7 linked regions of the Homo sapiens genome follow. The protein of the gene in region 5 purifies or fractionates together with the protein of the main gene of each other region. This does not show direct contact. Each region holds a gene or a part of one and is shown on either strand. Other genes may lie near its edges.

Region 1 (4,105 bases), on a different chromosome or scaffold from region 5:
GTGGGGGGAAGGGGGGAGGGATAGCATTGGGAGATATACCTAATGCTAGATGATGAGTTAGTGGGTGCAGCGCACCAGCATGGCACATGTATACATATGTAACAAACCTGCACATTGTGCACATGTACCCTAAAACTTAAAGTATAATAATAATTAATAAAATAAAATAAAAAAATCACTTCCAGAAGCAGCTATATCTTTTTCTGTGAAAGAAAGGTGAGCATAGAAAAGAACCTTGAATTTATGAAGGCTATGAAAACTGGGCACATAATCAGAGTGGGATGATTCTCCAAGCTTTCATAATACAATATTATACTTCCACAGTTTTCTCCCCAACTTTCTAGAATGTTAATAAGTGACAGAATTGTCAAGACTAGCATGTTCAACTGTCATTTTCACCTTATGGATTAAATTCTGGAACCAAAAAAATCTACTGTTATTTGTGAGTAACTAAAGAAGGTATTGGAAGGAGTTTTGAAAGACAAGAATGAACATTTCAAATAGCTAACAGGTCTTTCTTTATTTCAACTAACAGAGAAACCATTTATGGGAGGATGTGGTATTTCACTTCAGACTTCTCCAGAGGTGACACTGCGTACACCAAGCTAGCTCTGGATCGGCACACTGACACTACCTATTTTCAAGAGCCCTGTGGGTAGGTGGATTAGACTTTTACAGTGTAAAGTCTTTATATGTGATAGTCTTGAGTGGTTTCTTAATTATTTTCCATTCTGTTCGAACCAAGATCATATCTGCTCCTGCAGATTTGTATGACTTTCTCTTCCCCTAGAAACATGATCATTTTGAAATACCTTAACTCAGTTTTTAGATTCTGTATTAGGCCATTCTTGCATTGCTATAAATAAATACCTGAGACTGGGTAATTTATAAAAAAAAAAAAGAGAGATTTAATTGTCTCATGGTTCTGCAGGCTATACAGAAAGCATAGCAGCATCTTCTTCTGGGGAGGCCTCAGGGAGCTTCCAATCATGGTGGAAGGTGAGCGGGGAGCAAACAGTTCACATGGCAAAAACAGGAGCAAGTGAGAGAGAGTCAGGGAGGAGGTGCCACACACTTTTAAACAGCTAGCTGTCACAGGAACTCACTCACTATCTGAAGACAGCACCAAGCCATCAGTTATCCACCTCCATGAGCTAAACACTTCCACCAGGCCCTACCTCCAGCACTGGAGATTACAATTCAACATGAGATTTTGGTGGGGATAAATATCCAAACTATATCAGACTCCTAGGAATAAAATATTTTTAAGTTCTCAAAAGAAGACATTTATGCAGCCAAAAAACACATGAGAAAATGCTCATCATTACTGGCCATCAGAGAAATGCAAATCAAAACCACAATGAGATACCATCTCACACCAGTTAGAATGGCAATCATTAAAAAGTCAGGAAACAACAGGTGCTGGAGAGGATGTGAAGAAATAGGAACACTTTTACACTGTTGGTGGGACTGTAAACTAGTTCAACCATTGTGGAAGTCAGTGTGGCGATTCCTCAGGGATCTAGAACTAGAAATACCATTTGACCCAGCCATCCCATTACTGGGTATATACCCAAAGGATTATAAATCATGCTGCTATAAAGACACATGCACACGTATGTTTACTGTGGCACTATTCACAATAGCAAAGACTTGGAACCAACCCAAATGTCCAACAACGATAGACTGGATAAAGAAAATGTGGCACATATACACCATGGAATACTATGCAGCCATAAAAAATGATGAGTTCATGTCCTTTGTAGGGACATGGATGGAGCTGGAAACCATCATTCTCAGCAAACTATCACAAGAACAACAAACCAAACACCGCATGTTCTCACTCATAGGTGGGAATTGAACAATGAGAACACATGGACACAGGAAGGGGAACATCACACTCTGGGGACTGTTGTGGGGTGGGGGGAGGGGGGAGGGATAGCATCGGGAGATATACCTAATGCTAGATGATGAGTTAGTGGGTGCAGCACACCAGCATGGCACATGTATACATATGTAACAAACCTGCACATTGTGCACATGTACCCTAAAACTTAAAGTATAATAAAATAAAATAAAATAAAATAAAATAAAAAGAAAACTCATCTTACTATATAAATGGAGTCCTAATTTTGTTAATTATTAAAATGTAATTTTACATTTTTCAAAGTAATTATAAATTATCCCCCAAAAAAGTATTGCCTAACCATTAGTTTTGGAATTTGTACAGATTTCTTGCATTTAGTTATTAACATATTGCAAAAGGGTCGTCATGCAAACACAGCTGCTTTGAGTATGGCATTAAGAAGAATTTGAATCTGATTTACAAGAAGTTGGAGAGGAGGAATGATGGAAGAATAACTTCTTCACACGGAATAAGATGCTTTTGAACCAAAGATGATACATACTATACTCAATTTTCCTACCATTTGCTCTTCAGTAGAGGCACCTCTGTGGTTATTCCGTGTTCTTGATCTTGCTTCTGCATTTAGATGGTGAGCCTGAGACACAAAGATATGAGTAAAATGAGTGCACATAGATTTATGGAGACTATATGAGAGGATGATAATATGCAATTGCTCATGGTTACACTGATTTCCTTTAAGGGTTTATAACTTAAGAATGTTTGATTCAGGGAAGGAAGAACAAAGCAGCTTTTAGATATCCTGATAAATGTTATCAATATATGGAGAGATCAACAACCCTGCATCCTCATTCTAGTGGATACAGAAGGAAAAAAGAGGAAATGAGATAAGAAGCAGCTGTACAGGGGTTGAGGTTCAAATACTGACTAGCTCTTCCCTTTATGACCAACACCAGAGATAAACAACTGTTTGTGGCTTTAGTTTAATTGTTTGTAATCAATGGCAAGGACCAAGTAAATTAGCAGTATGGTAATAGCACTTAAGAGTTCAGGCTATGGCATCAACCAGACCCAGATTTGCATTCCAGCCTCAACATGTATTAGATTTGTGATCTTGGACAAGTAACTTAATTTCTCTGTACTTCAGTTTCCTCATCTGTAAAATGGGACTAGTAATATAAAACCTATCCATTAGCATTGCTAAGGAATTAAATTATATGATCATATTGCCTGACACAAACTAACCTATCCATTAGCATTGCTAAGGAATTAAATTATATGATCATACTGCCTGACACAAACTAAGTGTTCAATAAATATTAGCTATAATTTTCATCATTTTATTCATTTTAATCACTATCTTCATTGTTATATGCTTTACTCTCTCTAAAGCTATCTTTGCTCTGGATCTCATCCTTTCCAGCTTCCTTGGGGATTTCTCTCTCCTCTATCTTCAGCCTTTCCATACCTATTGACTCCTTCTTATCAGCCTCCCATATCTTAATTCTCTATTTTTGTACTTCCTTGGACTCTATCTCCGTTTAGCTACAGCCATGTTTTTTTCTTCCACTTCATGGCTAAGATTATTAAAAGAATAATAGCTACATTCAATATATTTTCATTCTCACTTCCCATTTACTCCTCAAACCCATAGGCATCTAGTTTTCCCAACCCACCCCTCACCGCAATTAAAGTTACTCTCTCTAACGTCACCAGCAACTAATTGTCATATCCAGTGTGTACTGTCATCTTACTTGATCCCTGAGACATACCATTAACCACTACTAAATTTCTTAAATATTCCTTCTTTCCTAGTTTTCTTCCTATATATCTGACCATTTTTCCTCAGCCTCCTTTGCTGGCTTCTTTTGTCTATTTCCTAAATATTATTCTTCCTCAAGGTTTTCTCCTTATCCCTCTTTTCTTACTTGAAATGATCTCTCCAAACGACCTCTTCCATGCTCTTGGCTTTAGCTATCACTTGTAACAAAATCCACCTCTCTTCCTTAAACATCTTTAACTGGTAACTAAATAACCCTGACCTAGAAGTTTCACAGAAATTTCAATATGGCCAGGCTTACCTTTCTCTTTTTAATTGTATTTATATTATATTAGATTGTCCTTGATTTTACTCCATATTTTTGTTTATTTCTTATTTTAATTTGCTTTTTACTTTTTCTTAGTTTTGCATATTTGATTAAATTACTATTAATTTTATTTTCCCTCATAAGTTTGAAAATT
Region 2 (4,682 bases), on a different chromosome or scaffold from region 5:
CAATCTGAAATGTCTTACATTAAGAATATCTTGAATGTTGTGTATATATTTTAAAAAGCACTTTGCAAAATAGTTTGTACATTTATTTCCTAATTTATACATGATTTTTGGTGTTAATATATTTAATGATTAATAACAGAATGTTTATTTAATGTGCTGTCCATTTTTATGTAATATTATGGGGAAAGTGATGCCAGCAGTTCCTTTTCATTATTCTATCTTCTGTCATATGAATGTTGAGCAAAGCTTAGGCCAACATGAATTGTTTGTGAAGTGTGGTTGATGGTGCTTTGTTTTTTTCTGACTACTTCTATGGAAGGCCAGTGAAGAAGCAAAGGAAGACATGAAAATTGACGCTCATTCTTCTTCCTATTGTTCCCTGACATCCAGCAAATTGTGAATTTGAAAAATGATGGCCAGTTTTCAGAAGTGCTGACAAATTCATATTGGTATGCAAAAGCTCATCACCCATTAAGGTTTGTTGTTGAATCAACAGTACTCAGCATATTAAAACAGTACATCAGAACTCATGCCAACAGTCTTTATGATGGGATTAAGGTGGACAAGATCTCCTAAGATCTGTGAATGGGATTAAGGTGGACAAGATCTCCTAAGATCTGAAAAGAAACCTTAATACGCTCATATGGTTGGAGTGTTAAGTGAACCTCTGATTTTGTCAGGGTTTTTCTACGTGTAGGCGTGAATAGGGGGCACCCCTTCAAAACTGTACAAAGAAGACGACTGTTTTCCATTTCCATTTAAACATTTTTAGCCACTTCATTTCTATTTATTGAACAGGTCAAATTTGTCTTGTTATTTGTGAGTACAGTACATTTAAAAAACATCCTTATCGGTTATTTTTTTTTCAGTCGGAGTTTGACGTATAAATTGTTTATGCTTTTGGTGTAATCTCTTAATAAACTGGTTCTTCAAAAATCATCCTATAAAGTGAGTTTTCATGAAGTTAACGGGATTTTGGTGTGATGTGTTTTGCAAATACTTATTACCGAGACCAGGTAGATCGTCACCTCGGCTCCCGGGCAGAGTTCGCGTGCGTCCGCACCGGATTCCCCGCGGCGGCAAGGCGAAGCCAGGGTAAGGGCGGTGGGGACGGCGCCCCGGGGCTGCCCTGCGGTCCCCACTGCCTGCTCTGCGTTGCCCCGTAGCCTCCTCGGGCAACGGCGGTGTCCTCGTCAGACCCGGGAGGTTCCGCAAACGCCGGAGGGGTCAGAGAAGCTGGGGGACCTTGGGCACCGGGTGGAACGGGCGGGGCGGCTGTCCTTGTGCTCGGGCAGCGAGGGCGCCGGCGAGAAGCGCGGCTGCAGCTGAGCGCTCCGCATCCCTCCTGCCGTTGCTCCTGCTTCCGCTACCAGGGACAAGGTCGCCTCTCGGTCCGTCGGCGTGTTTTCTGCACCTGCGCACTGGGCAAGCCTTGGGCTTCCGGAGCCAAAAGGCCCCGGAAGTGGTCGGCCGCTTGCGACGCTCCGGAAGTGACGTGCTTTCCCGAGCCGGTGAGTGCGGGAGCGGGGAGCGGGGAGCGTGGGCCTGGGGGGTGGTCGCGGCCCGGGCGCAAGGAGGGGCCTCGGCTTGGGCCGCGGGGTACCGGGGCGCTGGGAGCGGGAGAGGCCCCGGCCTAGGAGCTGAGAGGCCTGGAGGGCTGCCGGGCTGCGAACCCCGGCGGGACCGAGCGCTGCGGCCCTGGAGTAGCGAGCGCTCGGGCGGTGGGGAGCGGCGCCTTGCTCCCCGGTCCTGCCCCACTCTCTCCGCAGAACCGCGTTTTGGGGTCAGAAGTCTTGTCAGCCACCCCGGTGGTGCTCTGTCACGGGATGGGTGCCGTGTGTGAGTTCCGAGTCAAGTTGTTAGGAATTTGCCTTGATCCAGCGCTCTAAGTATTAAACATTTTAAAGTGATTATTGGCAGTATACAGTTGCACAAAACAACATAAATATATACACATTTGGATGATAAAACAACAATAAAGTTTTGTATTGTAAACGCGCCTCAGGGAGACGCATTTCCAGATAATTCACTGTCCGTGGCTGGCTTCTGCCCAGTGAGAGCGGGTTACCCGTTCTATTCCCATTTACGTTCTCGTAGCTGTGGATACCGAGGAACGGCGTTCACACAGACCTGTAGGTGGGAATTAGAGGGGTTGTTGGGCAGTGTCACTAGAGAAATACCTTTCTTTTGTAAAGGGGAGGACCCATTATAAAAGGGGGACGGGAAAGGAGAATTCAAATTGTTTTAAACGCAGGTTCGTCCTCAGGCAGTTCTGTTTTAGCAGAGAGAACGTAGCGAAACTTGGGCAGAAAATGGATTCCTTTGAAATTATCCTGGCCTTAGTCCCTTGGGAAGTCTGTGTAGGCGAACCTCAGTGAGAAGATTCCTGCCGTAAAATGCAGGTGTCAGCAGCATGCCAGGGAGGCCAGAGGATACTATGTGACTTTGGGCAAGTGACTGAACCTCTGTGAGTCTCAGCCTCCACTGCTTTAGATGGGCATAAAAAATGTAAAGTCAAGAATCAGGTTTCCGCTGGGCGCGGTGGCTCACGCCTGTAATCCCAGAACTTTGGGAGGCCAAGGCGGGCAGATCACGAGGTCAGGAGTTAAAGACCAGCCTGGCCAACATGGTGAAACCCCATCTCTACTAAAAATACAAAAAAGTAGCCGGGCGTGGTGGCAGGCGCCTGTAATCCCAGCTACTGGGGAGGCTGAGGCAGGAGAATCGCTTGAACCTGGGAGGTGGAGGTTGCAGTGAGCCGAGACCGCACCACTCTGCTCCAGCCTAGGCAACAGAGCGAGACTCTGTCTCAAAAACATACCCAAAAAAAAAAAATCAGGTTTCATGCTCACAGGAGGATTTGAGGAGGGTTTATAAAGGGACCGTTTGCAAAGGCAGAGTGCAGGTTAATGACAGTTGGTCCTTTAGCCTGGAACTGGTGGCAGTGGAGTTTCTACTCCTGGACTCCAAAGGATCAGGGAAGGCAGCAGTGATCGGGACAGGGAGAAGAGTCACTGGGGAGGGCTTCTTGGACTGGAGGTGTGAGCCTCAGTCTGAGTGGGCAGGGAGGTCCATGTCCCGGCCTCCTGCTCCTGCCTCCAGTCTCTGGTAGAGGGCCAGGTCCCAGTAGGTTTTCCTATGGGGCAAGCTCAGGCTCCTGACACACAGCACAGGGCAGGGTGGAAAGCTGGTCTGGAAAAGCAAATGGAAGATAGCTCGGCATGCAGTATTACCCCTCGCAGGGTATTATCGTTAGGAATACATTTAAAAGTGGATATATTGGTTGGGTGTGGTGGCTCGCGCCTGTAATCCCAGCACTTTGGGGGGCCGAGGCAGGTGGATTTCCTGAAGTCGGGAGTTCAAGACCAGCCTGGCCAACACGGTGAAACCCCGTCTCTATTAAAAATACAAAAATGAGCTGGGTGTGGTGGTGGGTGCATGTAATCCCAGGTACTCGGGAGGCTGAGGCGAGTGGATCACTTGAACCCATGAGGCGGAGGTTACAGTGAGCCAAGATCCCACCATTGCTCTCCAACCTGGGCTACAAGAGTGAAACTCTGCCTCAAATAAAAAAGAAAAAAAATGGCCAGGGCGTGGTGGCTGATGCTTGTAATCCCAGCAATTTGGGAGGCTGAGGTGGGCGGATCACGAGATCAGGAGTTCAAGACCAGCCTGGCCAACATGGTGAAACCCTGTCTCTACTAAAAATACAAAAATTAGCTGGGCGTGGTGGCATGCAGCTGTAATCCCAGCTACTCGGGAGGTTGAGGCAGGAGAATCCCTTGAACCCGGGAGGCAGAGGTTGCAGTGAGCTGAGATCATGCCACTGCACTCCAGCCTGGGCGACAGAGCGAGACTGTCTCCAAAAAAAATAAAAATAAAAAATAAAAAATAAAATATATACACATACATATATATACATGTATATGTATGTACACAAATTAGCTGAGCGTGGTGATGGGTGCCTGTAATCCCAGCTTCTTGGAACGCTGAAGCACAAGAATTGCTTGAACCCAGGAGGCGAAGGTTGCAGTGAGGTGAGATCATGCTATTGCACTCCAGCCTGGGAGTGAGACAGAGTGAGACTCTTGTCTCAAAAAAAAACCTTTCTGTGATGAGGGCAGTGTTCTAATATGTGCTGTCCCATATGTACCCACTCGTGACATGTGGCTGTGTGCACTTAGATGTTACCTCAGGGACTGAGTTTTTACATTTCAGTTAATTTTAGCCAAATGGCCACATTTGGCCAGTGGGGACTGTGCTGGACAGGTCAAGGACAGCCTTGTTGGAAGGAAAATAAAGACACCAAAGAGCAGCGTGAAAACAGTGGGATTTGTTCATCCGGCAGGGGAGAGAGCACAGCACTCAGCGGGCCTCCAAAGAGAAATTGAAAGGGCAAAAAGGAGGAAGCAAATTAGGCAAGACTCCGAGTTCAGGTCTCTGGTTGGCTTTGCAACCTTCTCTGCGGTTGATCTGCAGGTTCCATGTCACCTGCATCAGGAAGCCTGGTTTCCAGAATATCCGGGCTGGATGGTGTAACGTTCCAGCAGGCTGAGCCGTGGCTATGCTTGTGTTGATGAGCCCGAGTTGTTTTTCCCCAACCTGTTTTTATGCACCACCCCTGAGCCTTCCCATCTGATAGCTCTGGGTTAAGTCTCTTCACCTGTCTGCCCAGTTTCCGC
Region 3 (4,105 bases), on a different chromosome or scaffold from region 5:
TCCCATCTCAGATATGTAATTTCTTCTGTAATACTTCAGTATGTATCTCTAAGAAATAAGGTCTTATTTTATAAATGTAAGATCAATACCTTTATACCTTTATTATACTTAAGAATTAATAGTTCTTCAACTATATCTTGAATCACTATGGTATCATTTAATACCACATTTACTATAAATTTATTGTTTTGGATATTCTTATTTACTTACTTTTATAGAGACATGGTCTTACCATGTTGCCCAGGCTAGTCTTAAACTCCTAGGCTCAGGCAATCCTCCTGCTTCGGCCTCCCAAAGTGCTGGGATTACACAAGTGAGCCACTGCACCCAGCCTTTCTTACTTATTTTTAAATTGACGAATAACAATTATACATATTTATCATGTATAGCATGTTTTTGAAATATGCATACATTGTAGAATAGCTAAATTGAGCTCATTAACATGAGCATTACCTTATATACTTACAATTTTTGTGGTGAGAACATTTAAAATCTACTCTTAGCAATTTTCAATGATACAACACATTGTTATTATTAACTACAGTCATCATGGAACGTATTCCTCTTATCTAACTGAAATTTTTTCTCCTTTGACCAACATCTCCGTTTTTTTTTTGTTGTTTTTTTTTGTTTTTTTTGAGACGGAGTCTCGCTCTGTCACCCAGGCTGGATAGCAGTGGCACAATCTTGGCTCACTGAAACCTTTGCCTCCCAGGTTCAAGCGATTCTTGTACCTTAGCCTCCCACGTAGCTGGGATTATAGGCACACGCCACCACGCCTGGCTAATTTTTGTATTTTTAGTAGAGATGAGGTTTTCGCTATGTTGGCTAGGCTGGTCTTCAACTCCTGCCCTCAAGTGATCCACCTGCCTTGGCCTCCCAAAGTGTTGAGATTACAGGTGTGAGCCATCACGCCCAGCCAATATTTTTTGATAATTGAACCTTATTTATTATACCACGGGCCAGTGTACTTTTCTGTAATAACTCACTTTGGATTCTCTCCCTTTGCTTTCACACAAGATGTGTCCTTATATTATAGATATCTTAACTAGAATCAAAGGAGAATTCAATTGAGACTGTCATAGAAATGAATTAAACAGGGAAAACAAATTACTTAGCAGAAGTATAACAAACTATAAGAAATAAAGAATTTGAGCTATTGCAAATAAACAAAAATAAAAAACACATGTAAGAAGTTATAATTTATGGCCGGGTATGGTGGCTCACGCCTGTAATCCCAGCACTTTGGGAGGCTGAGGTGGGTGGATTATGAGCTCAGGAGTTCAAGACCAGCCTGACCAACATGGTGAAACCCCACCTCTACTAAAAATACAAAAATTAGCTCGGCGTGGTGGCATGTGCCCATAGTCCCAGCTACTTGGGAGGCTGAGGCAGGAGGATCGCTTGAACCTGGGAGGCGGAGGCTGTAGTGAGCTGAGATTGCACCACTGCACTCCAGCCTGGGCGACAGAGTGAGATTCCGTCTCAAAAAAAAAAAAAAAAAAAAGAAGTCATAATTTGTGACATAATTAATTGAAGTCAAAACTGGTATATCCTAAATGTTGTTTTTTGTTTTTGAGACGGAGTCTTGCTCTGTCGCCCAGGCTGGAGTGCAGTGGCGTGATCTCGGCTCACTGCAAGCTCTGTCTCCAGGGTTCATGACATTCTCCTGCCTCAGCCTCCCAAGTAGCTGGGATTACAGGCACCCGCCACCACGCCTGGCTAATTTTTTTTTTGTACTTTTAGTAGAGACGGGGTTTCACCGTGTTAGCCAGGATGGTCTCGATCTCCTGACCTCATGATTTGCCCACCTCGGCCTCCCAAAGTGCTGGGATTACAGGTGTGAGCCACTGCGCCTGGCCCCTAAGTGTTTTAATTAATTTGAGGTTGGCCTATGAAAACTCTAGCAGACTCTTTCTAGGACCTGGCTAGTTCCAAATACTAACCTAAAACTGAGAAAAATAAAGCATTTGCAACCTTCAATTAGTTGTGACACTCTTTTTCTATGCCACATTCTTACTGTATACTTGACTCTGTTAATATTACATAAAGAACAGGTACCATTACCTGAAAGGTTAGTTTTGATCCTGGAAACCTATTTACAATTGCCAGCTGATGTCCCTGCTGCCACTTAAAAAACAGGCGTTGGGTCTTGGCATCAGGCAGACAGGCCTTGTGGTCCCGCATCAGGTCTCTTGTGATAAACCTGCAGTGATTCCCGGAGTGCAGTGTGGCATACAGAAGGAATGGATCATCCTCCGAGCTGAACCAGGCATAAGAAAGGACACAATCAAGCACAGCTGAAGAGGCAGAGGACAGTGTTTTTCACCGTACTTTTTACTTACTTTCCTTGGAGGTGCCTCTGATTTCTTGACCAACATGATGCTAGTAATACTTAAGAACCACCTCAAAGTCCTTAGCTGGTAAGCAATACTATCTAGAACACAGATGGAAAGCTGAGGGGAACAGAATGCTAATGCCTGGGATTCTCACAGCTCACTGGACTCTTCCACTAGAACGATGAATTCTAACAATGCTCTCTTCACACTTAAAAGTTGCTTCTCTTTGGGCATTTTTCCTATTTGCCTTATCTATCACAGAGCACACCTTTTCCCTCTCTCTTCACCCAAATTCAAGAAACACCCAAAATACTACTAGGGCAGGATGAGACTTTCTTGCAAGCCACCAAATAACTGGCTGCCCCTAAAGCTGAACTGGTATTTCAGAGCAGCTTCTAGACAGTCACCTGGATCAGCACCCCAAAACATCTTCTTTGGTAAGAGCCAGTGACTCAAAGCCTCCAACAGACCATCAACCTTAGCACTTATTATTTTAATAAATGTGCTGTAAAAATGGCAGTAACGACCTTGCTTTAGGAGATTCAGACAGCAACTTGTGATATGCCCTATGCCTTGATTCAAATGACCCTAAATAGGACCATTTAAAGTTTTCTTTATCCTGAAGTATTTCAAGTGAAATGATAAAATGACAAAATTTGCCTTATAACTCTCCAGAAAAAAAAGAAAAAGAAAAAATGTATTCGGTTTATGGAACAAAATTAGCAAAATGATGGTAATTGTTGGAGCCGGGTGACAGTTACATGAGGACTCACTATTCACTATATTATTCTCTCTAGTGTATGTTTGAAAAGCTTCTTTGGCACATTAGTGGAAAACAGATTTAATGTTAAACACTTAAATATTCAAATCCAAAGCGACAAAGAAGGTCAGTGAATTGATCGTTACAACTGAGTTTGGAATTTCAGCTGATGCAATAAATACAGACCCCAAACCAAGCAGTGAGACCACTTTCCAACAGGCTTCTTGGTCATAACACTTCAAATTTATCTAATTTTTCCATATAAGGAAAATAATAATGATCATGACAGCAACTAACATATATGTTTTCCATGTACTTGGTGCTATGCCAAGAGTTTTACATGAGTTATTTACACATATTATCTTATTTAATCCTTAAAACAACCCCATAAAAGTTACACAAGAGATAAGGAAGACAGAGAGAAAGGAAAAACCTTTCCCAGACAGGGAGTGGCAGGGCCATGATCTCAACCTGGGTAAACTAATTCCCAAGCCTACAATCTTACTGTCTACCCAATGTTGCCATTAGGTCTTCTGCTCTTGGAGAAATGGAAGCACCATCTTCCAGCTAAAAAAAGAAGGGATGTGGTTTGGGAACTGGATGAGAGGTTTGCTTCTCCCTTGCTTTATGATTGAGAGCTACTGTACTTTTTAAATAATAAATGATTTGGGGGCCAGGCGAGGTGGCTCATGCCTGTAATCCTAGCACTTTGGGAGGCTGAGGTGGGTGGATCATGAGGTCAGGAGTTCGAGACCAGCCTGGCCAACATGGTGAAACCCCATCTCCACTAAAAATACAAAAATTAGTTGGGCATGGTGGCGGGTGCCTGTAATCCCAACTACTTGGGAGGCTGAGGCAGGAGAATCGCTTGAACCCGGGAGGTGGAGGTTGCCATGAGCAAAGATTGTGCCACTGTACTCCAGCCTGGGTGACCCAGTGAGACTCCGTCTCAATAAAATAAATGATTTGGAGAATACTGACAAATCTTGAAGTTATCACATTCAGA
Region 4 (4,105 bases), on a different chromosome or scaffold from region 5:
GAGGGAGAGGGAGGGTGAGGGGAGAGGGAGGGTGAGGGGAGAGGGAGGGTGAGGGAGAGGGAGGGTAAGGGAGAGGGAGGGTGAGGGAGATGGAGGGTGAGGGAGAGGGAAGGTGAGGGAGAGGGAAGGTGAGGGAGAGGGAGGGTAAGGGAGAGGGAAGGAGAGAGAGAGGGAGGGTGAGGGAGAGGGAGGGTGAGGGAGAGGGAGGGTGAGGGGAGATGGAGGGTGAGGGAGAGGGAGGGTAAGGGAGAGGGAAGGTGAGGGAGAGGGAGGGTAAGGGGAGAGGGAGGGTGAGGGAGATGGAGGGTGAGGGAGAGGGAAGGTGAGGGAGAGGGAAGGTGAGGGAGAGGGAGGGTAAGGGAGAGGGAAGGAGAGAGAGAGGGAGGGTGAGGGAGAGGGAGGGTGAGGGAGAGGGAGGGTGAGGGGAGATGGAGGGTGAGGGAGAGGGAGGGTGAGGGGAGAGGGAGGGTGAGGGGAGATGGAGGGTGAGGGAGAGGGAGGGTGAGGGAGAGGGAGGGTAGGGGAGAGGGAAGGTGAGGGAGAGGGAGGGGGAGGGTAAGGGGAGAGGGAGGGTGAGGGAGAGGGAGGGTGAGGGAGAGGGAGGGTGAGGGGAGAGGGAGGGTGAGGGAGAGGGAGGGTAGGGGAGAGGGAAGGTGAGGGAGAGGGAGGGGGAGGGTAAGGGGAGAGGGAGGGTGAGGGAGAGGGAGGGTGAGGGAGAGGGAGGGTGAGGGGAGAGGGAGGGTGAGGGAGAGGGAGGGTGAGGGAGAGGGAGGGTGAGGGAGAGGGAGGGTGAGGGTGAGGGGAGAGGGAGGGCGAGGGGAGAGGGAGGGCGAGGGAGAGGGAGGGTAAGGGAGAGGGAGGGTGAAGGGAGAGGGAGAGGGAGGGTGAAGGGAGAGGGAGAGGGAGGCTGAGGGAGAATGAGGGTGAGGGAGAGGGAGGGTGAGGGAGAATGAGGGAGAGGGAGAGGGAGGGTGGGGGAGAGGGAGGGAGAGGGAGGGAGAGGGAGGGAGAGGGACGGTGAGTGGAGCCGTGTCGTCGTCATCCTGTGGCTTCTCCCTGGGTGCCTGTCAGGCTCTGTCTCTTGTGTGACAGCCTGTCCAGCTCCCTGAATCAGCTCAGCTCCTGGAGAGGGGGCCCCTTGCAGACAGGTCAGCATCCATGGGTCCTTTCTGCTTGCCTGACCCCGACCTTCTGGCCCTCCATGAAGTACCTGCAGCCTGATGTCTGGGTTTAGGAGGGCCTCGGACGGCCCCTGTGACCCAGTGCGCTCTGCTCAGGGGTTTCCTGTCAGGCTGCATAATAGCTGCCCTGCGCCGCGGCTCTGGACTGTTGCAGTTCCAGGACAGGCGCAGAGAAGATGCTGGCAGTGGAGTCACAGAGAACAGCCCTGCCACACTGCTCTGGGACTCCGGGCAGTTGGGGCCTCAGCGTCCTCACGTGGAGAACAGAAACTAGGGTGACACCAAAGATGTTTACGAAACCTCCTTCCAGCCTCGTCCTAATCTGATGGACAGGTGGGACCCAAACAGTGACTCCAGGCTGAGGATGCAGGAGGTGCCCTCAACATCACCCCAGCCCTTCCATTCAGGGACCCCTTTGCATAGCTGCCGCCGTGATAACCCATTGCACAGGGAGAAGTCTGCAGACTGGCAACAAAATGTTACCAGTTAGCCCTGGGTGCTGGCCTTTCTTTGATTTTAGCTTACTTTTTTTTTTTTGTCTTCCTGCTTTTAATCTTTAAAACTTTTACAGTGAGCATTCATGTATTACATGTAGTAAAGTCCTTTGAATAAAGTATGTATTGTACTATAAAAAAAATGAACCTGGCCGGGCGCAGTGGCTCAAGTCTGTAATCCCAGCACTTTGGGAGGCTGAGGTGGGCAGATCACTTGAGGTCAGGAGTTCGAGACCAGCCTGGCCAACATGATGAAACCCCATCTCTATTAAAAATACAAAATTAGCCGGGCATGGTGGTGGGTGCCTGTAATCCCAGCTACTCCGGAGGCTGAGGCAGGAGAATCGTTTGAACCTGGGAGGCGGAGGTTGTAGTGAGTCTAGATTGTGCCACTGCACCAAAAAAAAAAAAAAAAAAAAAACCAGAGTTGAACAACAATGGAAGGAAATCGGAAGCAGGGGCCCTCCCAAATATACGGGGCTCGCTTCTGGAAACAGCAAAGTCCACTCCTGGTTTTGATGTTTTCTATTCATCCCTTTTACTCACTCGAAGCCCGAGCCCTGCTGTCCAGGCCAGGTGCTGGGCTGGCTCTGGGGACCAGCGTAGTCCTAGTAGGCCAGCCCTATCTGCCTGGAGCCACGGTTGGGTGTGCATCATGCAGCCCCCCATTCTCCTCCAGGCCGCTGTGGACGCGTCCCCACCCTGCGGTTTCTGGGGCCCCAGCTTTCTCTACTGCTTCTTCCAGCAAAGTACCCATGTTTGGCCTGGAGGCCATCTGGAGGAACGGCCAAGTGGTGGGCCATGTCCGGAGGGCTGACTTTGGGTTCGCCATCGACAAGACCATCGCCTACGGTTACATCCATGACCCCAGCGGTGGGCCGGTGAGTCCCCTTCTCTGGCCCTGCTAAGGCAGATGCCGATCCCTCACCAGCTCCAAACCAGCTCCCTGCACTGCACCCTGAGTGTGCCGGGCATAGGGAGGAGGCACGGGTGTGGTCCAGAAGAGGAGGAGGGAAGAGAAAGGAGGGAGGAGGGAAGAGGGGGAGGAAGGAAGGAGGAGAAGGAGGGGGAAGGAAAAAGGGGAGAGAGGAAGGAGGAGGAGGAGGGAGAGGGAGGAGGGAGGGAGAAGGAGAAGGGGGAGGAAGAGGCCTCAGCAGGTGGAGGACTCCCCAGCTGTGCCTGGGCAGAGCCAAAGCTGCTCTCTGTTTTCTTTCTGGAAGAATCCGACTTTGGTGATTCCAGGCTTTTTTTGGTTAGAAGGAGGTGCCAGCCAGCCAGGCTGATACCTTCCAGCTCCTCACACCAGAGACCCAAACCTCAGGCCACCCACAGCCCACCCTTTGCCTGGGGTGCAGGGGTGGCCCCCAGGGTGACCGACTAGAGACTCAGAGACCCATGTTCCTATCCTCTCTTTCCTCACCCCCGACACCCCTGACCCCAGGCAACCCCACCCCCTCCAGGTGACCCTGACCCCTGGCTGCAGGAGGCAGGAACAGGCTGGAAAGAGCAGGCACTGCCCCCAGGAGCAAGTCCCAGGACAGCTCTGGGTGGCCAGGGGTGGTGGGGCAGGGGGTGGGCAGCCTCCCCAGAAGGGGAAGGGGTGGTCTCTACCTCCACCTCCTTTTCCCATCTTTCTGGCACTGCAAGTAGAGGTGCCGGTGAGGAGGGTCGTGTCTCTCCATGGGAGCCGATCTGACGTTTGGCCTAAGCCCTAAGTGAGGCCGGGAGGTGCTGGCCTGGCTCCAGAGCCTTCCAGCCTGAGCCCCTGATGGACACGTAGAGGGAATTGGGGAGGGAGCGAGCACTTGGGAGAAGCCATGAGGAGGGGTAGGCTGGAGACGGAGCAGCCTTAGCAAGAGCTGCAGAACATGCGCAGGCCCAGCTCGCAGGCCCAATGGGGAGGGGACACCGCCAGGCCTCGGGCAAGACCATGGTCCTGTGGAGCTGTGGGGAAGTGGCAGCCCATGGGGCTGAGTCCGGCGGTGGAGCTGGGAGGCTGGGGACACACTTGATGCCACTAGCCTTTGGATCTGCCTTTTACTTGCTTTGTGACCTTGGATAAGGATCCTCTCTTGGAGCCTCAGTTTCCTCATTTATAAAATGTGGACACTCACCTACCATGCAGGGCTGTCATACAGGCCACTGCACAGAGTGAGTCTTAATATGTGGGGATTGTGATGGCATGGCTCCCACGGTGGGCAGGGCCTCCTGACACAGCCCTGGGGCCATGGTCCTGGGGGCCACAGCCCTGGGGCCCAGCCAAACCGGAGTTTATGGGCTCCATGCCAGGGTGGGCTGGGGAGTGGAGGCTCCTTTGCCATTTCTTCAAAGAACAGTAATGCTCGCCTTTCTCCGGAGTCAGGGATGGGTCCATAACCAACGTGACCAGGGAAGCCGAGGTTCCGAGGTTAAACGGCATCCAGACAGGCA
Region 5 (4,105 bases):
GTGAGATCGTGAGTGAGAGTTAGAGGAGGCCGGGCAGATAGATGGCGCTTCATCGTGAGTGAGATCGTGAGTGAGAGATAGAGGAGGCGGGGCAGATAGATGGCGCTTCATCGTGAGTGAGATCGTGAGTGAGAGTTAGAGGAGGCCGGGCAGATAGATGGCGCTTCATCGTGAGTGAGATCGTGAGTGAGAGTTAGAGGAGGCCGGGCAGATGGCGCTTCATCGTGAGTGAGATCGTGAGTGAGAGATAGAGGAGGCCGGGCAGATAGATGGCGCTTCATCGTGAGTGAGATCGTGAGTGAGAGTTAGAGGAGGCCGGGCAGATGGCGCTTCATCGTGAGTGAGATAGTGAGTGAGAGATAGAGGAGGCCGGGCAGATAGATGGCGCTTCATCGTGAGTGAGATAGTGAGTGAGAGATAGAGGAGGCCGGGCAGATAGATGGCGCTTCATCGTGAGTGAGATCGTGAGTGAGAGTTAGAGGAGGCCGGGCAGATAGATGGCGCTTCATCGTGAGTGAGATCGTGAGTGAGAGTTAGAGGAGGCCGGGCAGATAGATGGCGCTTCATCGTGAGTGAGATCGTGAGTGAGAGTTAGAGGAGGCGGGGCAGATAGATGGCGCTTCATCGTGAGTGAGATCGTGAGTGAGAGATAGAGGAGGCGGGGCAGATAGATGGCGCTTCATCGTGAGTGAGATCGTGAGTGAGAGATAGAGGAGGCCGGGCAGATAGATGGCGCTTCATCGTGAGTGAGATCGTGAGTGAGAGATAGAGGAGGCCGGGCAGATAGATGGCGCTTCATCGTGAGTGAGATCGTGAGTGAGAGTTAGAGGAGGCCGGGCAGATAGATGGCGCTTCATCGTGAGTGAGATCGTGAGTGAGAGTTAGAGGAGGCCGGGCAGATGGCGCTTCATCGTGAGTGAGATAGTGAGTGAGAGATAGAGGAGGCCGGGCAGATACACGGCGCCCCATTGTGAGCCTGTGATTGAGTGAGTGAGTGAGATCCTGAGTGAGATCATGAGTGAGTGAGATCATGAGTGAGATCATGAGTGAGTGAGATCATGAGTGAGTGAGATCGTGACTGAGATCATGAGTCTGTGAGTGAGATCATGAGTGAGTGAGATCATGAGATCGTGAGTGAGATGATGAGTCTGAGTGAGATCGTGAGTCTGTGAGTGAGATAGTGAGTGAGACTGAGTGAGATCATGAGTCTGTGAGATAGTGAGCAAGTGAGTGAGATCGTGAGTCTGTGAGTGAGTGAAATCATGAGTGAGATCGTGAGCCTGTGAGATTGTGAGTGAGATTGTGAGTCTGTGAGTAAGTGAAATCATGAGTGAGTGAGTGAGTGAGTCTGAGTGAGAGACCCTCCTCTAGGATCGAGGAGAACAGGAGCAGAAAGAAGAGCTGGAGGTAGGTCCAGGGAACCAGCAGCTGGGGCATCCCTGTCCCCATCCCCCCGAGGGCAGAGGCTGACCTGGTCGAGGGCCGTGAGGGCGCAGGGCTGTGTCAGGGCCAGCCTGGAGTCCACTAGCCCGCCCAGCGGCGGCTCCTTCCCCGGGATGCTGTTGTAGTAATTGTGCTCCAAAGAGTCCTCCTCGTCCCCCCAGGCCGACTCCTCCGGCCCTGCCAGCCTGGGGGACAGACAACAACGGCCATGGCACAGGCAGGGCCCAAGGGGGCTAAAGCCTTACGGCTTGAGCTTCTGGGGGAGCAGGAAATATCTGAGTTCGAATCCCAGCCCCCCACCTGTCACTGAGGGTTCCTACCGGGAAACGCTTCTAGAGCCAGTGACCAGGCCCACTACTTCCTCATCTATAAAATGGAATGTTGCACACATTTCCGAGCTGTAGCACAAAAGGCAGGTCGTTGGCAAACCCAGTCTCCACTCCTTTCTGCCCACCTCCGGCCCCGCCCGGCAGCAGAGGGCATGAGCCAAGTTTATACCCAGAACCAGGACATCACCGGTCAGGGTGGCAACTCTCTGGGATCAAAGCGCCCCCGCCCTCTGGCCCCGATGGCACTGGCAGGAATTGATCCTGCAGGTGCTCCTCAGCAAGCACGGCCCCGAGAGCCAGAGGGGTGCACCCCACCTGGCCCACAGTCGCTGCTGGGATAAATTATGAAGCAGCCTACGGAAGGCAGAGGCAGCTCTGGAGGCAGGCGAGGAGCCCGTCTCAGCTTCGGAGCGTGCTGAGCAACGTGCATCAAGCACGCTGTCCCCGTGCACAAAGGGGTGAGTGTGAGCAGGCGTGCGATGCCGCCTCCCTCGTGACCAGCAGGCTGGGAGCTCATGCACCTGCACCTGCCCTCCCACCATTGGAGGAAGCTGACTTTCTAATGATGAATAGAGACTTAAATAGCTCCTTCTCCAAGGCCAGCTGGCAAACCCCAGCCCAGGGCCAAATCCAGCTCACCGCCTAGATCTGTGTGGCCCACGAGCTAAGAATGGGCTTTCAATCTTTAAATTATCAAAGTTAAGTGTTTGAGAAAACATCTAGAGAATCATATTTTGCAACACGTGGCATTCACACTTCAATGTCTATAAAAAACGTGTTACCAGCACACAGACACGTCCCCCCCTTTACACATGTTCTGCGGTGAGACGGAGGCCGTTTTCTGCCCATTGCGGGAGCCGGCCGCGCGTCTGGAGGAGGGATATTGGTTGTAGCAGCAGGGCTGACAGCCTCAGGCACACCGGGGAGTCAGCTTGCTTAGTCCTCCCCAATCCTGGGGGGCAGGCGGGGATGCGTTTACTCGGGTGTTAACAGCCGAGGAAACAGGATCCTCTGGCTGAGCCATATTCTCACGGGACAGGGAGGGAGGGACAAGGGCAGGACGGAGGCTGAGGCCTGCAGGAGGTGGAGCAGGCTCTGCACCTGGGCAGGTCACTGGGGGTGTCCCCAGGGCACGGGGGAGGCAGCTCTGGTTACCTTTCTGGGGGCAGCGCCACCTTGGGCGGGCTGTGCAGGTACTGCTTGAAGCGCAGCTCGAAAGCTTGGCCCACGGTGCTGATGATGCTCTGTGCCAGGCCCTCACAGCACTCCAGGATGTGGCAGGCTGCGGGCACGTTGGTCATGCAGCCTCCGAGCCACACGGCCGTGCCCCCCAGCCACAGGACCCCCACCGGCCTCCCCGGGGGCCTCACCTCTCTGGTTGATGGGGTCCTTGGCGACGTAGGCCACGTAATCCGTCATGTCCTGGGGGCGGGGAGGGGCCAGCTGGACCTGCCTGGGCCCCCCACCGGGATTCCCAGCTGCCCACCCCAGCAATGCAGAGAGATGGGGCAGTGGATGTGGGCACAGGGTACGTTAGGCGGGCTCTGGGGAAGGATGAGAGGGTCTCGCGGCCGGAGGGGGGCGGCAGGGCTGCAGGTCCACCCCCATCCCTGGCCTCACCGTGTCTCCGCCTGACGCGAAGGAGATGGACGGCATGTGGTGGTTGGCGATGACCTGTGGCGGCAGGAGGCACACGCGGTCATGGGGGCCCCGCTTCGAGGGCAGGGGGCCCGGCAGATGGACCAGGACCACAGCGAAGAGTGGGGCAGGGGCAGGGATGTGGGGATGGAGACGTCTCCTGGACAGGCACCCACTGCAGCCGGGTCCTGGGTCAGCCTGGACGACCGAGGCTGGGATGTGGAGTCCCCAGCAAGGAAGGGACTAGGGCCCTAAGGGATGTGTGGGGTCCGCAGGAGGTCACACGGGAATGTGTGTGAGAGGACAAACCTCCCCCACTGTAACACTTCACACATGTACCTGCCCAGACGCTCACACACACACACCCCAAGCCCCACACACATGCACACACACACACACACCCGAAGCAGCCACGGGAGGGACGGCCCCACACTCCTGACTCCCTTGTCCACGTGCAAGGGCACCTGTGAGTGCATTTGCATGCTTATCTGCATGCTCATTTGTATGCTTGTTTGCCTACTGATCTGCATGCTCGTTTGCATGCTCATCTACTTGCTCGTTTGCGTGGTCATCTGCGTGCTCGTTTGCGAGCTCATCTGCGTGCTCGTTTGCGTGCTCGTCTGCGTGCTCGTCTGTGTGCTCATCTGCGTGCTCGTCTGTGTGCTCATCTGCATGCTCATCTGCGTGCTTGTTTG
Region 6 (4,646 bases), on a different chromosome or scaffold from region 5:
ACTCAAAACCACACGCTTGTTTGGCTTCTTTCCCTTCCTCATCCTGCTGTCCCCACAGTCGCACAGGTCTCCTTGGGAATCACAACCCTAATGAATCCCGGTGCTGGGGACAGCCCCTGTGGGATCTAAGTCATCAAGGAAGATTTCCTTCAGGAAATGAAAGCTGGGTGGACGTAGATGGTGCGTAGGAGAAGAACAGGCAGAGAAAGAGCATGCCGGGAGGGAGACGGTGGGAAGAACCCTCTTGCTAGCATTTAAGGAACAGCAGAAACTGGCAGAAGCCACTGTGGCCTGGTTCCAGAGGCCTCTGGGGGTGGATGATGTGGGCTGAGGCCTGGGGGATCAGTGGGACCTCAGTTGATAGGGCCTGGAAGTGTGGATTGCAGAATCGGATCTTTACGTAAGAGCAATGGGAAGCCCCAGAGGCAGGATGAGGCATGATCAGGTTTGGGTTTGAAAAGACCAGTAAGGCAAGTGTGCAAAGAACAGAGGGGAAGGAAGCAAGAGAGGACTGAGATCAGCTGGGAGCTCCTGCAGAGACTAGAGATATTAGTGGTCCAGGCAAGAGATTGTCAGTATTGCTCCCAGCCACGGAAAATTTGGCTGTTGTAGGTCTTTCATTGTGAAATGTAAACTTATTCTTGGGAATTAAGTATTCAAACAGTGAATGTGGTAGGCAGGGGCTGAAATGGTTCGTAACCTCTACCTGACTGCCAAGTGCCAGCCTCCCTTTCATGTCATGAAAGATACAAGAGAGAACAGGCTCCCAGGCCGTTCTACCCCCCTTTCAATCACACAACCAGTGTGTGACTGATTGTGTGATTGGAAAGGGGGTAGAGATAGAAGTAACTGGACTTGGGAAATATTTAAGCAGCAACAAAATGGAAAGTTATTTTGCAATTACAAGAATAAACTTTCAGTAAAACTGCTATTAAAGTCTAGATTTATCTAAGGGTAAATTTTGTGATATAGGGCTTGTAGGCCATATGAGAAAATTTTCTACCAGTAAAATAAAGTTTGAATTTGTTTTTATTTTGTTGTAACAAAGGCAATAAAGAGGGGAAGTCTCTCAAATATTTAAAAACTTTTATTTTTACTTTCAGAGAATTTGAAGGTATACAGATGAAATCTGACAAGACGTGAATTTATAATTCTAAAAATAATTTCACAGCAGAGAGAAAGCATATACCTAGATATGTACATATTTATTACAATATAAAGACATAAATGTATATTTCTGAAATATTCTAAAAATATAATGTAGGAAGAAATATTTATCAAATACACAGAATTATATACAGTATGCATTTAGGAAAAGCAGTAGTAAAAATATGCACAAATAAACCATCTGTAAACACAATTTTTAAGTCTTATAAGTATTGCATGCATTTCTGTGCATTTTACATTTATGAAATCATATTTTTCCTAGGAGTTCAAATCACAAAACAAATGTTATATAACAGATCTCTAACTTTTGCATGCTTTACACTTGTCCCATTTAATAGACAGAAAAATTATGGCATGGGAAATCATTTTATAATATTAAAGTCACACTGAATGTTTTTAAGCTGTGACTAAACTTTGAAACATTGCCCTGCACCACAGATCCTAAATCAAGTACTGCAAATATTAAAAAAATGACTGAGGCAAATTACCATTAGAACCCACACACACATACACGGACACACACACACAGACACACACACACATGCATGTCTGTGCTTCATATGCACATACACAATTTAAAAATTATTGCTTCATCTTTACCCTAATGCCATAAAGGAATCACATTTAAAAAATAAACAATTTTAAGGTCCTCTAACAAAATAATGCCCCAGTGAATCACTAGTCTTATAAGTTGTTTGACTTCGTTAAAGTCCTTTTAAAAATAGAGGTGTTCTCTAGTTTCCCAATAATGTTTTTATTTCAATGCAGGAAGAACGCAATTTCATGGGAGGCCTGATAACTTTAACCATCATTTAGCTTGGCTTACATTATTAAGCAGGGACATTTTCCTAAGTAGTACATTAAGCAGAGCTACAGTAAATGGATTGTCAGTATTACTCCCAGCCCCAGAAAATTTAGCTGTTGTAGGTCATTCATTGTGAAATGTAAACTTATTCTTGGGAATTAAAGATTCAAACAGTGAATGTGGTAGGCAGGGCCTGAAACGGTTTGTAACCTCTACCTGACTGACAAGTGCCAGCCTCCCTTTCATGTCATGGAAGATGCAAGACAGAACAGGCTCCCAGGCCATTCTAAGCACCTGAAGATGGTGCTGACACAGGTGAAGTGTAAACCAGCAGTGAACCCTGTAGAATGCCTTGGATCCCAGCACTCAGTCCGCTTCCCTGAGTTGGATATGATGTTAGCAAATACCACCATCTAGAAAGACAGTACAGCTTCTGGAACAATTTTGCAGAAGAAAAAGTATCAACACCTGGGCCTAAATATTCTTTATAAGCTGTTGTATGGTGTGGTGTTTGAAGTTTGCTTTCCGGTAACGTAGAAGCCATAAGCACCATTCTTGCAGAAAAGTTGAAATGGCTGTTTTGGTCTTGGTAAAAAAAAAAAAAAAAAAAAAAAAAAAAAAAAAAAAAAAAAAAAGGTATACCCTAATTGTATATCAAAGAAGTGTATTTAAACAAGACAAATTATTAGCCAAAGAAAAAATGCTAAAACTTAAAAGGTGTGGCTTACTGTGATAAACATGCATGCTCTTTGCTGAAGGCTGGGGTGTCACAATGCAGCTAGAATACTTTCCTTACCCTACTTGATTCAGTTCTGTTGGTTGGGATGCTCAGAATTTGACAAATTTCATAATAGCATCAGACACTTGGTGGAGGAATAATAATGTATTCATTTGGGCCTTGTTCAGAAATTTCATCTGTAATTGCATGTTTCTCTAAATAATCTACCAATAAGCAAATGCTCCTTAACTTGCCATTGGCAAACAGCATTTTTTTCTAGGAAAATCCTAGAAGGTGCTGCTAAAAGAACACAATGATAGAATCCGGGTTTAAACACCGACATGTCAGCCTATAAAGCCATATGTTACAAATGTCTTATTTCCACCACCAGGGGTGGTGGCTCACACTTGCAATCCCAGCACTTTGGGAGGCCGAGGCGGGTGGATCACGAGGTCAGGAGTTCAAGACCAGTCTGGCCAACATAATGAAACCCCATCTCTACTAAAAATACAAAAAATTAGCTGGGTGTGGTGGTGTGCACCTGCCTGTAATCCCAGCTACTCGGGAGGCTGAGGCAGAAGAATCGCATGAACCCAGGAGGCGGAGGTTGCAGTGAGCTGAGATTGCACCATTGCACTCCAGCCCAGGTGACAGTGTGAGACACTGTCTCAAAAAAAAAAAAAAAAAAAAAAATTAGGGCCTTCTTAGGCTAACTTTTGATCACTTCAATAGTTTTGAATTCATTGTAATGTCTATTAGGAGAACATAACTAGACTTACTAACTCTTAATTTCATTAAGGAAATTATTACTCAGGACGAGGCCAACATATGCTATTTGGCTTATGTTATTTAAAGGAAATAACTCAGTAGTATTGAAATAAATAGCACCTGGTTGGTATATGGACATGGCAAAAGTTGTGGAGGGAACATGAGAACTCCTCTATTGTCAGAAAAAGTATTGAATGGCATACTGCAGAAAAAATATTCTATTGTGTTCAATACAGGCTGATAAATATATACATTTATATTACATGTGGTTGCATAACACAAACCTAGACCCTAGGGCTAAATACAGTCCACCGCTTGTTTTTTATAAAATTTATCAGAACACAGCCTTTGTAGGCAGAATAACAGATCTCCTAAAATGTGAATGCCCTAATCCCTGGAACACGTGAATATACTACCTTATATGAAAAAAAGGGCTTTCCAGATGAAATTAAATTTATGAACTTGGAGATGGGAGACATGATCCTGGATAATATCTTGTCAGACAGAAGCAATGTAAGAAGAAAGAGAGATTCAAAGTGTGAGAGGGACTCAACCAACCATTGTTACTGGCTTTCAGTTGGGGAAGGTTTCATGAGCCAAGGAATATGGGAAATCTCTCAAAGTTGAGGATCGCCTTCAGCTGACAGCAGCAAAAAAATAAAGACTTCAGTCCTGTAACCATGAAGAACTAAATTCTGCCAACAACCAAACTAGCAAGAGAATAGATCCTCCTCTAGAACCTCCAGAAAGAGCCCCGACAACACGATAATTTTAGCCTGGAAGAGCCTCATCAGACTTCTGACCTATAGAACTGTAAGATAATAGATGTGTGTCGTGTAACTCACTAAGTTTTAGTAATTTGCGGTGGCAGCAATAGAAAGCTAGGACATCAGCTCACTCATTAGTTTACAAATTGCCTGTGGCTGCTTTCATGTTCCAAGGTAGTATTAAGAGGATGTGACAAAGACTGTATGGTCCATAAAACCTAAAATATTTGCCAACTGGCCCTTTACGGAAAAAGTTTGCCAACCCTTACTATTCACATGCAAAAACCATGAACAGCTGCTAGCATTTACTGAACACTTAATTGATGCCAGGCTCAGGAATAACTACTTGGTATTCATATTAAATTTTTGTGATACACTCTCTTTGGGTCATCATTTTACAAATGAAAAAAAAAAAGGAAGT
Region 7 (4,647 bases), on a different chromosome or scaffold from region 5:
TGACTTTGTTCTGCTGCAGCCTGATAAACTGGGACCACTGTGTGGTTAGTAATGCACTTGCCATTTGGTGACACAGACTGAAGGCTATCCTACACCTGGGCCTTACCTCTTCCTCTACTGGCATCCTAATGGCACTCTGACAGCATCCAGGGTGACTACAGGGCCCATTGGAAATGGATCATCATTCTCTCTTCTAGTGTCTATCTTTATCATAACCTGATGTCCCAAACTTGTGACAAGTTCTTTTGGCAACTGAAGGACCAAGAAGGGAAACGGTGATGAGAGAGACTGCTCATTGTAACTTTCAAAACCCCGTCTTTGGGGAAGAATCATCTAGGGTGACATTCCTTGAAGTAAATCCCAGGAGAATCTAGGCCAAAGAGATGAGCCAAGGTTAGTGAGACAATTTATTTTTATTGCCTAAACTGCAGAGCATTCTCTACACAGCGTAAAGGAGAAGTGGGGCAGCTGCAGGACATGTAGAGAAACCAAACTGGGAAATCTTACAAGGAGTTGAAAAGATTAATGTCCCAACCTGATGAGATTACGGCCTTGAGACAATAAGGTGGAGCAACAGAACAATGGGAAAGAGGACTGGGAGAGGAATCTAAGAACCAGATGGCTTCAGCTCTCTAGAGGAGCTGAGCCTATTCACAGTGCCTAACCTGGAAGCCTGTGAGGAACAGGCCTCAGGCCCTTGCCACGACCTACTTAGGCTACAATTTCCTTTAAGGCAGCCCCTAGCTCTGGGAAGGAATACTGGTAGCCAGTGGCCAGTGTTCGCTGTGGGATCACCTTCTGGCCCTCCAGCAGCATGATGGCACGCTGTCGCCCAAAGACAGCTTGCACCACAGCGCTGGGGAGAGGGATGAAGGCTCGGCGGCCCAGGGCAGCACCCAAGGTCTGGGCAAACTCAGCATTAGTGGCGGAGGATGGAGCCACTCCATTCAGGACCCCGTGCACGTGGTTTGCTTCAAGGGCATGGGTCAGGATTCCTGCCAGGTCCCCGATGTGTATCCAGGGGAAGAATTGGTGGCCTGAGCCGATGGGGCCCCCCAGGCCCAGGCGAAAGGGCAGCAGCATGTGGCCCATGGCACCACCCCCACGGCCCAGCACAACCCCTAGAGCAGGAAAGAGGGAAGGTACAGGGGTCCTCTCAGCCTTGAAGGAGCCCACTGCTCCTCCTGGTTTCTGTTTCCCCTTCCTCACTCTCCCCATGCTGACTTGGCTCTGTAACAGAAGTGAGCAGTATGGCTGTCTTTAAGACCTCACACCTTCTCATCTGCAGGTTGGCTAGAAGTGGTGGCATCCTCTCACTCTGTAATTGTAATCTCAGCTCTCCTAATCCCATCACTTCCCCAGCCCAGAGAAGACATTCCAACCCTGTCTGATACCCAGGCCCGTTTCTCACCTGAGCGCACCACCACCTGGCGTGTAGAATCTCCAGGAAGCCTGGCTGCAGCTTCCCATTTGGTTACGAGGTTGGAGAAAAAGTCAAAGTCCCCTCCTGGGCTGTCTTCATCATACTCCGCAGTCAGACTGGGCTGGTAGTAAGCTGCCGGTGGAACACAATCATTTGCCCTGGGTGTCCTTGGTCCTGCCTGGCTCTCTGTAGTGGAGGCTCCCCTTGGCCTCACCTTCTCTGGCCCTTAGGATCTCCCCATTTGGAGACAGAGCCATTTGGATATTTTCCCCTTGAACTTCTCCATGACCTGAAGCGTTCCTTCCCTGGAGGAACTCTGGTTGCAGGGCTAAACTTAGAGGCTGCTAGAGTGTAGTGGTTAAGAACAGGAACTTGGGTACCAGGCGCCTGAATTTTAATCAGCTCCCTCATTTATTAACTCTCTGACTTGATGCAAGTTACTTAACCTCTCTGTATAGAATTTTCACATCTTTAAAATGGGAATAATAGTACCTACCTCATAGGGTTGTTGTAAGGAATAAATGATAATAAGCATAAAACACTTCAAATAGTGGCTGGTGTGTATAATTGTTTGCAATTACTTGGTCCCAAAGGTGACCAGGAACTCTGTTCCTAAAGAACTATGGTGTGAGAAGTAAGGGACTTTGGGATAGGTGGACTTTTCCCTGGCATTGAGTGATGCCACTCCCCACTGTTTTTTCAGGGTCTCAATTTCTTAGTGAAAGTACACAAAGGTTAGGAGAAACATGCATGGATCAAGGGCCTAGGAAGTCATTTTGCCTGGAAAAGACCAGTGCTCTGGTGTGTGCATAGCTACAGAGGTCTGAGTTACCCCGTTCCCCTGGCGAATATAAGGGGCTGGTGATTTGGGGGGCGTACCTACACCTGTGACTAAGACCCAGGCCTTGGGGGGTTGTGGGGCTTTGGTGATGGCTTTAGCCAGCAATTGGGTGGTCTCTAGGCGGCTGCCGATTACCTCTTTTTGGAAGGTTTCATTCCATCTGCAGGAGAAACATGGGAAATAAAAAGCCACTAAATACATAAGTGCACATATCCCTCTCTCTGTCTTTTCCTGGGAGCTATTTCATACCAATTTCTTGTAAAGCCCTGAATTTCGGCTTAAGAGAAACAGTCAACGTCTCCTGTAGAGGGAAAGGGCATTCATTTCCTGGGCATCCTGAGTTATACGTGAGGACTTAAGCCAATTGGCTGACTGGGTGGAGGAGCAGGTGGGGGTGGAGGAGTGGAGCAGAATGAGTAGTCTGGGATATCGGTTTAGTTCGGAATCTGGGAGCTCCATTACCCATAGCTCACAGGTTCTCATCAGTGGGGCACTGTCCTCCCTGTGCTCTAGTGGGTATCAGCTTTAGGGCCCGGGCTGACCTTCGGAGAGGGTTGAGGATGTTCTCTCCGGCCAGGTTGACGGCGGCATCGCAGCTCGGCAGCCCCGATGCAGCGAGCTCATCCTGTCGGAGAAAGCACACAGTGCCCCTGCCCCGCCCTGCGCCGCCCAACTCTGCCCTCCCACCCGCTTCCAGAGGATGGACTTACCCACGTGATCCGGCCGGGCCCGGGCTTTCGGGAGACCAACGTCACTTCGTGGCCTCTGGCATTCAGCAGCTGGGTTAGGGCTGTCCCAATGAAGCCTGTCCCGCCACCTGATCGGAAAATACAAATTGTTTATATTCCCGTGGAGTTGGGGTGGGGGCGCCTTCCGTCCCCGCTGTGGCACCCTCTTCCGGCGCCATCCCATCTGACACCAGGCTTCTCCCCACTTATCCCCCTCCTCGCGATGCAGAGGTGACACAGGTCACAGGGATTAGGGAGATTCGGCTTCTCGGGCTAGGAGGCCAAGGCCAGGTTGCCTGTGCACTAGACAGTGCCCTCCCGGAAGCGGATTCCCAGTCCTCAATCTCCGACTAAGCCCGCCCAGCACTCTCCCTTTCTGCCCTCCCTCACCCACAAGCACACGCATAGCGACTAGGACCTAACGCGCCTGCGTAAAGTTTAGAGTTTACCTCACCTCAGACGCGACTACGACCTCTCTGCGCATGCCCCTTTCGGGAAGCGCGTTCCAATCGAGGTCGCAATCCTGTGCGTGACCCTTCTCGGCGACCCGGAAAAACTTGTAAATATAGGCTGGGTGTTTCAATAGCAAGCGAGGTGGGAGGGATTAGACCGATGGACCCGGAAAGGGCGGAGGAGGGAAGGCTTTAGTGTAGAAAACCAACCAAACCAAACCCAAACCAACAAAACCCTTCACCTAAAACCCGAAGCTACCCAGACCTCAGAATTTTGGATGTCTATTAAGTTGGCGGGTCAGTAATGCAAGAGAACCCTTCCACCGGTAATCTGGATTTCTTTCCACTCGGCCAGTTTTTTCTTCTCTCTCTTTCCGCTGGAGCCTTTCTATCAACATTTAAACATTCCAAAGATCCCCCTATATTAAAATAAGCCTTCTCCAGACCTGTTTTTCCTCCAGCTAATATTCTTTTTTTTTTTTGCCTTCATAGCCAAACTTCCCACAAGTGTGGTTTCCATTTTCTACTTCTTACTTCACTCCTATAGGGTTTGTGCCTTTATCATTCATTTCCTCACTCTCCAAGAACATAAGTTTCCCATGTGTCACCAAATCTAATCCCTAGTTTTCAGTTAGTTTTCTTGACCTCTCAGTATCAATGGGCACCTGCTGATTCCTTCCTCCCTTTGAAAATGTTTGGCTTCAGTGAAAGACATTCTCTTCTCGGCTTTCTCGTACCTTTTTTCAGTCTCTGATGCTTGCTCCACCTCTGCTAAGTTCTTAAAATATTGGTATTCCTCAGAGCTGGATCCTAGGACCTTCTCTTTCCAATCTGCACTTTACCCTAGGCATCTATGCCTTGAATTCAGTTACCAGGCTTTAACAGAAGACATCCCAAATCTCCTATGCAACTCGGATCTCTCCTCTGAGCTCCTAACCCCTATAAAAACTTTTCACTACACATCTCTTCTTGGACGTCTGAAACCCTGTTGATTTTAAATACTGAATCTCTCCCAGATTTATCTAAGAGGGGTCTTTGAAAAGTTCATGGAAAATGTGTATTATGCTAAAAAATACATAGGTTTCCAATTTTTTTTTTTTTTTTTTTTTTTTTTTTTTTTTTTTTTGAGACGGAGTCTCGCTCTGTCGCCCAGGCTGGAGTGCAGTGGCGGGATCTCGGCTCACTGCAAGCTCCGCCTCCCGG

The links.
Region 1: the proteins of SHC2 (region 5) and TMLHE purify together in Homo sapiens (affinity purification with mass spectrometry; one large-scale study listed by BioGRID and IntAct). This does not show direct contact.
Region 2: the proteins of SHC2 (region 5) and MTG2 purify together in Homo sapiens (affinity purification with mass spectrometry; one large-scale study listed by BioGRID and IntAct). This does not show direct contact.
Region 3: the proteins of SHC2 (region 5) and PRORP purify together in Homo sapiens (affinity purification with mass spectrometry; one large-scale study listed by BioGRID and IntAct). This does not show direct contact.
Region 4: the proteins of SHC2 (region 5) and SARDH purify together in Homo sapiens (affinity purification with mass spectrometry; one large-scale study listed by BioGRID and IntAct). This does not show direct contact.
Region 6: the proteins of SHC2 (region 5) and CYP24A1 purify together in Homo sapiens (affinity purification with mass spectrometry; one large-scale study listed by BioGRID and IntAct). This does not show direct contact.
Region 7: the proteins of SHC2 (region 5) and SDR39U1 purify together in Homo sapiens (affinity purification with mass spectrometry; one large-scale study listed by BioGRID and IntAct). This does not show direct contact.

Annotation. Positions count from the first base shown.
Region 1 is NC_000023.11:155,508,223-155,512,327, reverse strand, and holds part of TMLHE (trimethyllysine dioxygenase, mitochondrial isoform 1 precursor), read left to right. Parts: intron 1-535; coding exon 536-655; intron 656-2,230; coding exon of another isoform or gene 2,231-2,252; exon of another isoform or gene 2,253-2,490; intron 2,491-4,105. UniProt on the Homo sapiens protein: Converts trimethyllysine (TML) into hydroxytrimethyllysine (HTML).
Region 2 is NC_000020.11:62,181,547-62,186,228, forward strand, and holds the start of MTG2 (mitochondrial ribosome-associated GTPase 2), read left to right. Parts: upstream 1-1,481; 5' UTR 1,482-1,511; intron 1,512-4,682. UniProt on the Homo sapiens protein: Plays a role in the regulation of the mitochondrial ribosome assembly and of translational activity. Displays GTPase activity. Involved in the ribosome maturation process.
Region 3 is NC_000014.9:35,268,559-35,272,663, reverse strand, and holds part of PRORP (mitochondrial ribonuclease P catalytic subunit isoform 1 precursor), read right to left. Parts: intron 2,264-4,105; coding exon 2,068-2,263; intron 1-2,067.
Region 4 is NC_000009.12:133,665,186-133,669,290, reverse strand, and holds part of SARDH (sarcosine dehydrogenase, mitochondrial precursor), read left to right. Parts: intron 1-2,420; coding exon 2,421-2,556; intron 2,557-4,105. UniProt on the Homo sapiens protein: Catalyzes the last step of the oxidative degradation of choline to glycine. Converts sarcosine into glycine.
Region 5 is NC_000019.10:433,238-437,342, forward strand, and holds part of SHC2 (SHC-transforming protein 2), read right to left. Parts: intron 3,447-4,105; coding exon 3,393-3,446; intron 3,195-3,392; coding exon 3,143-3,194; intron 3,055-3,142; coding exon 2,928-3,054; intron 1,629-2,927; coding exon 1,472-1,628; intron 1-1,471. UniProt on the Homo sapiens protein: Signaling adapter that couples activated growth factor receptors to signaling pathway in neurons. Involved in the signal transduction pathways of neurotrophin-activated Trk receptors in cortical neurons.
Region 6 is NC_000020.11:54,152,377-54,157,022, forward strand, and holds the end of CYP24A1 (1,25-dihydroxyvitamin D(3) 24-hydroxylase, mitochondrial isoform 1 precursor), read right to left. Parts: exon of another isoform or gene 2,386-4,646; 3' UTR 1,070-2,385; downstream 1-1,069.
Region 7 is NC_000014.9:24,439,372-24,444,018, forward strand, and holds SDR39U1 (epimerase family protein SDR39U1), read right to left. Parts: upstream 3,406-4,647; 5' UTR 3,399-3,405; coding exon 3,383-3,398; intron 3,082-3,382; coding exon 2,975-3,081; intron 2,890-2,974; coding exon 2,807-2,889; coding exon of another isoform or gene 2,738-2,806; exon of another isoform or gene 2,731-2,737; coding exon of another isoform or gene 2,727-2,730; intron 2,473-2,726; exon of another isoform or gene 2,425-2,472; coding exon 2,303-2,424; exon of another isoform or gene 1,768-2,302; coding exon of another isoform or gene 1,638-1,767; exon of another isoform or gene 1,556-1,637; coding exon 1,412-1,555; exon of another isoform or gene 1,122-1,411; coding exon 712-1,121; 3' UTR 395-711; downstream 1-394. UniProt on the Homo sapiens protein: Putative NADP-dependent oxidoreductase.